Regions from separate parts of the Homo sapiens genome. Here region 1 is linked to region 2. The links come from fine-mapping of genetic effects on gene expression. A gene starts in region 2. The other region holds a variant in brackets. All regions are shown on one strand. Distances are from middle to middle. Region 1 overlaps FAM47E (family with sequence similarity 47 member E). Region 2 holds the start of STBD1 (starch binding domain 1).

Region 1 (5,387 bases), 23 kb before region 2:
CTCTGTGTGCACGTACCTTGGGGTCTTTAGGGGACAGTGCAACTGAGATGGTCAGAAGTTTCTGGAAATGGGAGATTTGATTTCTGTTTTTCCAAGAGTGATAGAACTAACAATAGCTGATACAGCTAGCAAATAAATGTAGGACAAAGTTCAGAATCAGACTGGTTTCAAAGTTAAATCAGGCAAGTCTAGAGCATGAGATGGAGATTTGAGACTGGGAAACTCCATTATAGAACTGGTTTGGAGGAACTCCTTTAGCTTTGAACATCAATACTAGGTCTGCTAGATATATTTAATATACAAATAACTGCCTAATCTGTATATAAGGTTTGCATAACTATATTTATATATAATATATAAAATATAAAATATGCATCTATAGCTTTAATATTACATAATTATGTGTTTACGAGTCCATATTAGATATGTAAAAATGTACTTCTGTGGTATATGTGTGTGTATATATAAATCCTTATTTGCCATTGATATTATTGTGGCTCATTTTTGTATCTTAACATTTTTAGTGGCAAAACACCCTTCTTTTTTTCATTTTGATGTGTTCCCTATTGATTTAATCCATACTGTTCATGAACATTTAGTTCAGTTTTGGGCAAAAGGAAGCATGCCTGACACACTGGCTATTGCAGGATCTGGCCAGCAGCCCGCAATGCAACGGGGCTCTCTGTTCCCAGGCGGATTGGCAGGTTGAGAAATAATAGACACACACAAGATAGTGAAAGCTGGGTCCAGGGGTGTCACCGCCTTCTGGTCCCACGGTGCCAACAATGCACTGGATATACCAGCATTTATTATTAAGTTTAGTGAGGGCGGGGGTAGGTTAGTGAGAGATTTAGGGTCATTTGATTGTGAGATGAGATGGTCACATGGGGATGAAGTAATTCTTTAACATAACATTTGTATGTAGAAGTACAGTACATTTGTATGTAGAAGTACAGTGTACAGAGATAAGAATTTACAATATAGTGTGTGCGTCAATAATTTCTAACAGAATCTTAAAATAGAAACACAATCTTTCCATAACCTATGATTAGCAAGATATTAATCAACAGTAACAGTTGCCACAAAAGCTGGTTACAAACAATCCATGGAAACAGGAGGTGAAGCTAGACAACCAGTTAGACCAGAAATTCTCAGAAGGGAGTATGCCTTAACCCTAAAGAGGCCTAGAAGAGCTGTGGCAAGATGAGGGCATTTATAGCCCTATCTTATCCATATGGACAGGCGCCCCCCATGTGTCCGTTTATAGGCTTTCCACAAGGGTCGCATTCCATTCCCAGAGCTATGAACATCTGCTTTTCTGGGATAGGAATGTTGGTGATGTGCAACCTCCCTGACTGCACGTCCGTTCATAGGCTGTCTGCAGGGGGAAGCACATCATGCGCTGTTGGCTCGTTCTGGCAGCCCAACCTGGCATTGTCTTTACACAATCCTGCATGCAATTTTGTATTTACAATAATCAGGAGCATTTCATCTTTTATTCCGTAGCAATAGTTTCAGGGGGTCTCCCTACATCTGGCTGTCCTCTTTTCAGTCACATTGACTAGAGAAATGATGCCCCTGGTCACAACAGAGTCCTCTGAGAACACCTGTCACTCAAAACCCTACAATATTTTGTCCCTTTATTCTTACATCCTATATTCTTATTTTATCAATAAGATTTCAACTGAAGGAGAGAAGGGGCTCTATCACAGGGAATAAGATATATATGCATATACACACACACAGTATATAAATATATGTGTGTGTATGTGTGTGTGTGTATACACAGTTATTATTTACTTAAATCTATATGTGAACATTCATTCTTTTTTTTAACCTCCTGTGTACATTCACATATGTTATGTGAACATATGCACTTACCTACACATTCCAGTATCTGCTGCTGGATTAACTACTTGATGCATCACCCACAGCCTCATTCCCTCTGCTGCACGGATGGATCCCAAGCCTTAGTAGCAGGGATGGGCAGCACAAGGCTATGTTGAGCTGGGCTGGGCCAGACTTGGGCACAGAACAAGTGTGAATTCCATCTGAGTGTTTCTGATACTGTGTGACTACCTTCCAAAGACCAACATCTATCATGGTCAGATTATTAACATGTGATTTTGCATAGTGTAAGGATATATATTAGAGTGTGAAATTTTGAGTTAGATATGGTAGTGGTTGTGGGGAGGACTGTACTGTGCAAGTTTTGTTTG[C/T]CAATCTAATGAAGGTTCTCTCATTTTTTTTTAGTTCCTTGAGAATATGTATATCGGGAAGGAATGTAAACGTGCATGTAATAAGACTCCTATAAAACGAACTCAAGCATAGAAGAATCGTAGGAGAATGATTAGGCAGATTTTATTACTACGTACTTGGCTATTTCTCTGTCTCCTTTTAAAGATTAAACAGAGTTTATGATGAGTGTCCCACTGTGGATGTTCAACTTTGACTTGGCAACATCTGTAAATGTAATACCTGATGGTTATAAGCATTTCTCAATGGATTTCTGCTTCAGTTAATCAACATTTTGTATACTTTATCACCCATGAGATCAATATTCACATGTAATCTTCTCATATTTTTGTGGCACGTGAATATTATATAGGTATATCAACTATTGGTAAAAATAAATAAAGGCATAAATAAAAACAGACTTACTCTATTGCCTTTTTCCCAGGTTTTTCCCCTGGTATTGAATGAGTACCTCCTTTCCTCTTCCTTTACAATATTATTTTCTTTCATTTTGAATTAAATTTACTGAGATATTTTTTCCTTTTGTCCGCATTGCCATGGGTGGATATGGTCTGTTTGGCCCCGCTAAATCTTATGTTGCAGCTTGATCCCCAGTGTTGGACATGGGGGCTGGTTTGAGATGTTTGAGTCATGGGGGTGGATCCCTCGTGAATGGCTTGGTGCCATTCTCACAGGAGTGAGTGAATTCTCACTCTTAGTTCCTGTGAGAACTGGTTATTGTAAAGAGCCTGGCTCCTCCTCCTCTCTCTTGCTTGTTCTCTCACCATGTGATGTCTGCACATGCTAGCTCCCCTTTGCCTTTTGCCACGAGTGGAAGAATCCTGAAGCCCTCACCAGAAGCAGATGCTGGCACCATGCTTCTTGTACACCCTGTAGAGCTATGAGCCAAATAAATTTCTTTTCTTAAAAATTACCCAGCCTCAGGTATTCCTTTGTAGCAACACAAATGGACTAAGACAGGCATGTTAGTGTTGATAATAAATGTGTATCTATAACATAAGGTCATAGGTCAGAAGGTTTAATGGAAACTCAAGATGACATGTATTTTAATTACCTTTTAAAAATTATATTTTATTTTAAAATGTTAATACTCTCTGGGTGTGACCACTCACTCCTATAATCCCAGTGCTTTGGGAGGTCAAGTCAGGAGGATGGCTTGAATCCAGTAGTTCAAGGCTGCAGTGAGCTATAATCATGCCAGTGCCCTTTTGCCTAGGTGACAGAGTGAGATCCTGTCTCTAAAAAAAAGTTAATGCTCATATTAGGAAAATCAGAAAACATAGACTAGCAAAAAGAACATAGAAAATACTAATTCTTCCTATAGAGTTAGCAGTAACTGCTCTTTGCTCATTGGAATGTATCCTAGATTTTTTTCTATGAAACATATAGGGAATAATTTAATCAAAAAAGGATTTATTGAAAGGAAATTATTTATTAAAAACATATTCTGTCCACAGAGTATCTTTTTTTTTAACTTTTACTTTAAGTTCCGGGATACATGTGCAGAATGTTCAGGTTTGTTACATTAGGTATACATGTGTCATGGTGGTTTGCTGCACCTATCAACCTGTCATCTAGGTTTTAAGCCCTGCATGCATTAGGTATTTGTCCTAATGCCCTCCCTCCCCTTGCCCTCCACCCTCTGGCTGGCCCCTGTGTATGATGTTCCCCTCCCTGTGTCCATGTGTTCTCATTATTCAACTCCCACTCATGAGTGAGAACATGTGGTGGTTGGTTTTCTGTTCCTGTGTTAGTTTGCTGAGGACGATGGTTTCCAGCTTCATCCATGTCCCTGCAAAGGATGTGAACTCATTCTTTTTTATGCTGCATAGTATATGTGCCACATTTTCTTTAATCCAGTCTATCATTGATGGGCATTTGGGTTGGTTCCAAGTCTTTGCTATTGTAAATAGTGTTTCAACAAACATACATGTGCTAGAATGATTTATAATCCTTTGGGTGTATACCCAGTAATAGGATTGCTGGGTCAAATGGTACTTCTGGTTCTAGATCCTTGAGGAATCACCACACTGTCTTCCACAATGGTTGAACTAATTTACACTCCCATCAACAGTGTAAAAGCATTCCTATTTCTCCACATCCTCTCCAGCATCTGTTGTTTCCAGACTTTTTAATGATCGCCATTTTAACTGGCATGAGATGGTATCTCATTGTGGTTTTGATTTGCATTTCTCTAATGACCAGTGATGATGAGCTTTTTTTCATATGTTTGTTGGCCACATAAATGTTTTCTTTTGAGAAGTGTCTGATCATATCCTATACCCACTTTTTGATGGGGTTGTTTGTGTTTTATTTTGTAAATTTGTTTAAGTTCCTTGTAGATTCTGGATATTAGGCTTTTGTCAGATGGATAGATTGCAAAAATTTTCTCCCATTCTGTAGGTTACCTGTTCATGCTGATGATAGTTTCCTTTGCTGAGCAGAAGCTCTTTAGTTTAATTAGATCACATTTGTCAATTTTGGCTTTTGTTGCAATTGCTTTTGGTGTTTTAGTCATGAAGTCTTAGTCCATGCCTATGTCCTGAATGGTATTGCCTAGGTTTTCTTCTAGAGTTTTTATGGTTTTAGGTTTTATGTTTAAGTCTTTAATCCATCGTGAGTTAATTTTTATATAAGGTGTAAAGAAGAGGTCCAGTTTCTGTTTTCTGCATATGGCTAGCCCATTTTCCTAGCACCGTTTATTAAATAGGGAATCCTTTCCCCATTGCTTGTTTCTGTCAGGTTTGTCAAAGATCAGATGGTTGTAGATGTGTGATGTTATTTCTGAGGCCTCTGTCCTGTTCCATTGGTCTATCTGTCTTTTTGGTACCAGTACCATGCTGTTTTGTTTACTGTAGCCTTGAAGTATAGTTTGAAGTCAGGTAGCATGATCCCTCCAGCTTTGTTCTTTTTGCTTAAGATTATCTTGGCTATATGGGCTCTTTTTTGGTTCCATATGAAATTTAAAGTAGCTTTTTCTAGTTCTATGAAGAAAGTCAATGATAGCTTGATGGGAATAGCATTGAATCTATAAATTGCTTTGGACAGTTATGGCCATTTTCACAATATTGATTCTTCCTCTCCATGAGCATGGAATGTTTTTCCATTTGTTTGTGTCCTCTCTTATTTCC
Region 2 (5,371 bases):
CATTAGCTTCTTGGGATTCCCAAAGAAAAAAGTAAATTAAAAAAAATGTTGCATGATCAATATGATACAATGTAAAAATAATTCTGATGGGTTGAGAAAATAATTTTTGGTATTATTTTAAATAAATGAATGGACATTTATGACAGCAATAAATATTAAGAGCCTTTTAGGTATTATAAGTGAATAGTGGGGCTTACATCTGAAGGATTTTACAGATTCTCTGGGATTTTTATCCCTTAGACAGGAGTCCCCAGACCTTGGTCTGAGGCCTGTTAGGAAGCAGGCTGCACAGTAAGGAGGTGAGTGGTTGGCAAGTGAACATTACAGCCTGAGCTGCACCTCCTATCAGATCAGTAGCGGCATTAGACTCTCATAGGAGCACAAACCCTATGTGAACCGCACATGCAAGGGATCTTATATTTTTATCAGATTTTTTGAGACAGTCTCCCTCTGTCACCCAGGCTGGAGTGCAGTGGCATGATCATGGCTCACTGCAGCCTTCACCTCCCAGGCTTAAGTGATCCTCAGCCTCCTGAGTAGCTGGGACTATAGGCGCCACTGCCTTGCCCAGCTCATTTTTGTATTTTTCCATAGAGACAGGGTTTTGCTATGCTGCCCAGGCTGAAAGAATCTTATTTTATACAGTGACATTCATTCTCTTAAAAATATAGCTTTACGGTTACTTTTTATTATACATAAAATGAATTTCAAGGAACGGTAATATCCACATGGGCTAAAAATGCATATGGAATCTACGTAAGAAAAATGCCAATAATGCTCTAGGGTGAAATTACCTGGGGCTTTTAATTCATTCATTCAACCTGTACTTCTAAGCGCTCACTCCGGAGAGGTTACAGGTGCTAAGAATTCAGCAGAGAACAAAGGACAACCATCCCCGCTGTCATTTACACTCTGAAGGGAGGAAAGAGAAATTAAACCACAGACACACAGATTATAGAGTGTATTAGAAATGACGCCCTAAGTGCTAATGAGAACAATGGAGCAGGGGAAGGATATAGGGAGTAGGATTGTAATTAAAACTGGGATTGTCAAGGAAGGGCTGGGCAGGGGAGGGGGTAGTGGGGATGCAGATGACACTTGTGCCAAGACCTAAAGGGGATGAGAGAGAGAGGATGTCTGCAGGAAGGATGACTCTAGGCAAGGAAGCCAGTGTGGTTGAAGGTGGCAAGATGGAGATGAGTGCACAGTGGTCATGGGGAACAGATCCTGTAGGGTCTTAAAGGTTCTTCCGTGTGATCTGGAGCAACTGGAGGGTCTTGAGCAGAGAACTGGGGTGTTTTAACAGGATCACGCTGACTGGTGGTTTGAAAGTGGCCTGTGGGAGCTTGCTGTGTTTTGTTTTGCAGCAATGGGAAGGATGTGGTTGCCACTTCCTGAGATGGGGAAGGTGGGGAGAGTAGTAGGTTTGGGGAGTTAGGTGGGGAGTTCAGGTCTGGATGAGTTGGGTTTGAGATGTCTATTAGACATCCACGAGGAGATGCCCAGTAGGCAGTCTTCGCCCTCACCTCTCCTCTACCTCCTCTCTTATGATTACAGAAGTTGTGGCCTGCATCAAGGCGTGCATCAGCCTTCCAGTAACCCCACTGGCAGAACCTTGCACCCCGTTAAGGGCTACTGTCCATTCGGAGCAAGGGGCACATTAGATAATTTGCCCTACCAGAGAGAGCAATTATAGCAATTACTCCAAGGCAGGTGTTTGGTATCTGTGGCCTTTAGCAGTTGAATGTCGGAGTCCAAGGGAAAGGTGTGAGCTGCAGACATAGACGTGGGGATCATCAGCTTGAAGCTGTTGTGCAAAGTCATCAGATCAGCAGAGGAAAGGATTTACAAAGAAATATATATAACACCGCACAGGGTTGTTGTCTTGTGAGGATTAAATTAAATACACACTTAAAACATCCGGAATACAGACAGTGCTTAATAAAGAGCTGCTGTTTTTATTAACAAACTTATCTGTAGGAGCTCGTCCATGGACAACATCCAGTTCATACAGATGCGTGCGCATTTCGCAGCAGCCATACACGCCCAAAGAGGACGAGACTGGATGTGATTGAGCTGACTGGCATCTTTAGATGGATGGTCCTCAGTCCAGTCCTTCCATTTTACAGGCGAGGAGGCGGAAGCTTGGGGAGGCTAAGCGCGCTGAGCTGGCGGCGGAGCGGAGCTTCCACTAGGGCTCCCAGTTTCCCCGCACCGCGCCCGCCGTCCTCCGGGCCACCCATCCCACCCGAACGCGCCACCGCTCTAGCCCGCGCTCCAGCCCGCGCGTCACCGACGCCCGCGGCCTCTCCCACCTCTAAGTTCCAGGAAGCTCTCGGCCTCTAGCTGACCGCGTTGCTGCTGAGCTTCCCTGGGGAGAAGGCGCCGAGGTGCCCGGTGCGGGCCGAGGCAGGGCTGGGCCTCGCGGGCAGCAGGCGGAAGAAGGAAGGGCGGTGGGGCAGGTCCCGGCTGCGCGGGGCAGTTGTGCGCACTTGGGTTCTTCACGCGGGACACACGTGGAACGCCGACCCCTGCGCCCCTGGCCGCTGGCAACTGGCAAGGCCGGGAACAGAAAGTGTAGGGACAGAAGAGCGCTGGAGTCTTCCCCGGGAGGGAGCCCGGGGCTGCAGCCCAGGGGCGGGGAGCGGGGCGGGGCTGGGAAAGTTGAGTACTGGTCGCTCAGGGCCGGGCTCCGCCGGAGTGCCCGGCGCAGAAACCGTAAAAGGCTGGAGCGGGCGGGGTAGGTGTGGCTCTGTGTGCGTGACCTGAGCCCCGGTCCCAGTCCCTGTAGTCTCCTGCGGCCGCGGCCTCTCAGCCATGGGCGCCGTCTGGTCCGCCCTGCTGGTTGGAGGGGGTCTGGCCGGAGCACTTTTCGTTTGGCTGCTGCGGGGCGGCCCTGGCGACACCGGGAAGGACGGGGATGCGGAGCAGGAGAAAGACGCCCCTCTTGGGGGAGCTGCGATTCCGGGAGGCCATCAGAGTGGCAGCAGCGGACTGAGCCCTGGACCTTCCGGGCAGGAGCTGGTCACCAAACCAGGTATTCTTCCCCCCGTGACTCCAGGGCACATCTGCCAGAGCTTTGAGGTTCATCGAGGAAGGGAGCAAAGAGACAAACCCACCTGGAGCTTTCCTAGGGGCCCATTCCTGCGGACGGGCTCTCCTAAGGGGACTGGGCCATCCCCACGCCCCTCGGTTTCCCAGGCTGGTTGGTACGCGCAGGCAGGTTTCTTGTCTGGTCCTCCAAGGGCCGCGCCCTTGCCGAGTCCCTCAGCGCCCGCGCCTGAGGACTTGGTCCTGCCCCTCCGGCGGGGATGAGCTCCTCCACTTGGCGGCGCTTGGTGCAGTGCGGGCGGCTGCAGTGGCGGCGCCCCTTCCCGGCCTTTGGAAAGGGGGGCTTAGGTTTAGGGGATCCTACAAGCCTCTTCGATCTCTGCCCAAGCAGGGACATTTTCTAAGTCCCAATCCGGGTAGTCTGACATCCTCCCATCGCACAGCCCATGAAGAGCTGGGTTTGGGAACACCCGAACTGCGGGCGCCTCCTGCTATCTGGATGCTTCTTTAGGAAGGCAAAGTTCAGGTTGGACTCTGGCCATGAAGGCTGTGGCTGAGGCCCTGGGGATGTGCCTTGGTCACCCCTTTCAGCACTGTCGGCAGTCCCCTCCACGCTGCCCCAGAATAGGGCCGGATAGTCATCCCTAGGAAGGGACTACTTAAATAGGGGACCCAACCCTGATGAGTAGAATTGACATCTGGGTTTAAATTTCTGTATTTTAGGGACCGTTTGCTAAGCAGAGAGCGAACACTGGCAGAAAAGCTTACCGTCCAGTGCCCTCCCTTGGCAAGCTGCCCATGCCTGGACAGAAGCCTAATGGTGAAAATGACATCTGTGAACTTTATTTTTAGCCCAGTGGTGTTCATGTGCAGCCATATGAAAATCTGCCCGTGTGCCTTTACTGTGATTGGTCTGGGATGCCTAGACAGTTCACTTATCTTTTTTCTGAAGACCAATCTCATGCTTTAGGTTGAAAAGTTGGGAATCCAGAATAATATTTGTTCATTCTCACTTCCAACTCCCACCATCACCGAGGCGGGCAAATCACAAGGTCAGGAGTTCGAGACCAGCCTGGCCAATATGGTGAAACCCTGTCTCTACTAAAAGTACAAAAATTAGCTGGGCGTGGTAGTAGGCGCCGGTAGTCCCAGCTACTTGGGAGGCTAAAGCAGGAGAATCGCTTGAACCCGGGAGACAGAGGTTGCAGTGAACCGAAATCGTACCACTGCACTCACTCCAGCCTGGGTGACAGAGCGAGACTCCATCTCAAAAAAAAAAAAAAAAAAGGGATAAAATGAAACAAGACTGTTGTCCCCATACCACCACCACCCCCACACCACATAAAACCACAGCTGTGCTGATTGTATGTATGATTTGGAGATTTCAATCTTGTAGGGAGCTATTTGGACTACCAATGGCATGGCCAAGAAGGAAACTGCATTTTTAGAGGACTTGGATTTTGTATTTTTAAGAACGTTTTTTAAAAAATGCTTACAATGGAAGGGGATACAAAACACCGTTTTGTTGGGGAGGTTCCTAACGCATATGGGATTGGCAAGGAGAAACCAGCCCCTTCCCCCAGTTCTCCCTCCACTCCTGCCCAGGGAAGCACTACTGTTCTCCGTATCTCCCCAAGGTGACAGCTCCTGCTGATCTGCCCGCAGGTCTGCGAGAGCCAATCCCTGCCCTGCATGCCTCCCCTGGGAGAACAAGTGTACTCTTCTGGTTTGTAACGTAGCCACGCAGCCCTTTGCCCCACAGCCTGGACAACATTCTTTGATGATAGGAGCCAAGCAACTTAACTTGGCTGCATGCCAGTATGGCCTGGACTGTGGAGACTGGGGACCATGGGGGGGTTACACGTCTGCCTCTACAGCTTACCACTTCATTTACACTTGTGCTGGCACACTGATACTCCTGGATGTCCCTTTTGTTGTCAGATATACATGTGTATTCTTAGAGCACAGTGTTGGGAGCATACTGGTTAATTAAGTAGTACTTGATTTTAATAGAGGGGGACTTTGTGAATTGCAGATTGATTAGTAGTAAAGCTTTCAGTAACTAAATCTATTTTCTCAGCCTGACTTTTTTCTTAAATGAACTACCTGACTCTATTACATTTTTCCTTTGATTTCTTAGAGCATCTTCAAGAAAGCAATGGACATTTGATTTCTAAGACCAAAGACCTTGGTAAACTGCAAGCAGCATCATGGAGATTGCAGAATCCTTCCAGGGAAGTCTGTGACAATTCAAGAGAACATGTTCCTTCTGGACAGTTTCCAGACACAGAAGCTCCAGCTACCTCTGAGACCAGTAACT

What was found.
Region 1: its variant is fine-mapped to the expression of STBD1 in nasal epithelium (TOPMed, PIP above 0.99).

Annotation. Positions count from the first base shown.
Region 1 is chr4:76,281,128-76,286,514 of GRCh38, forward strand. FAM47E (family with sequence similarity 47 member E) reads left to right here. Exons shown (of 8, transcript NM_001136570.3): 8 at 2,254-2,656. The coding sequence ends at 2,331. The region is part of intron 6 of FAM47E-STBD1 (FAM47E-STBD1 readthrough); the gene reads left to right. Among named protein-coding and RNA genes, the nearest start is that of STBD1, 23 kb to the right of the region's middle. The variant C/T (reference allele first, on the strand shown) is at 2,220.
Region 2 is chr4:76,303,953-76,309,323 of GRCh38, forward strand. It overlaps STBD1 (starch binding domain 1), which reads left to right and starts at 2,781. Exons shown (of 2, transcript NM_003943.5): 1 at 2,781-3,037; 2 at 5,192-5,371. The coding sequence starts at 2,818. FAM47E-STBD1 (FAM47E-STBD1 readthrough) reads left to right here. Exons shown (of 7, transcript NM_001242939.2): 7 at 5,192-5,371. The coding sequence ends at 5,221.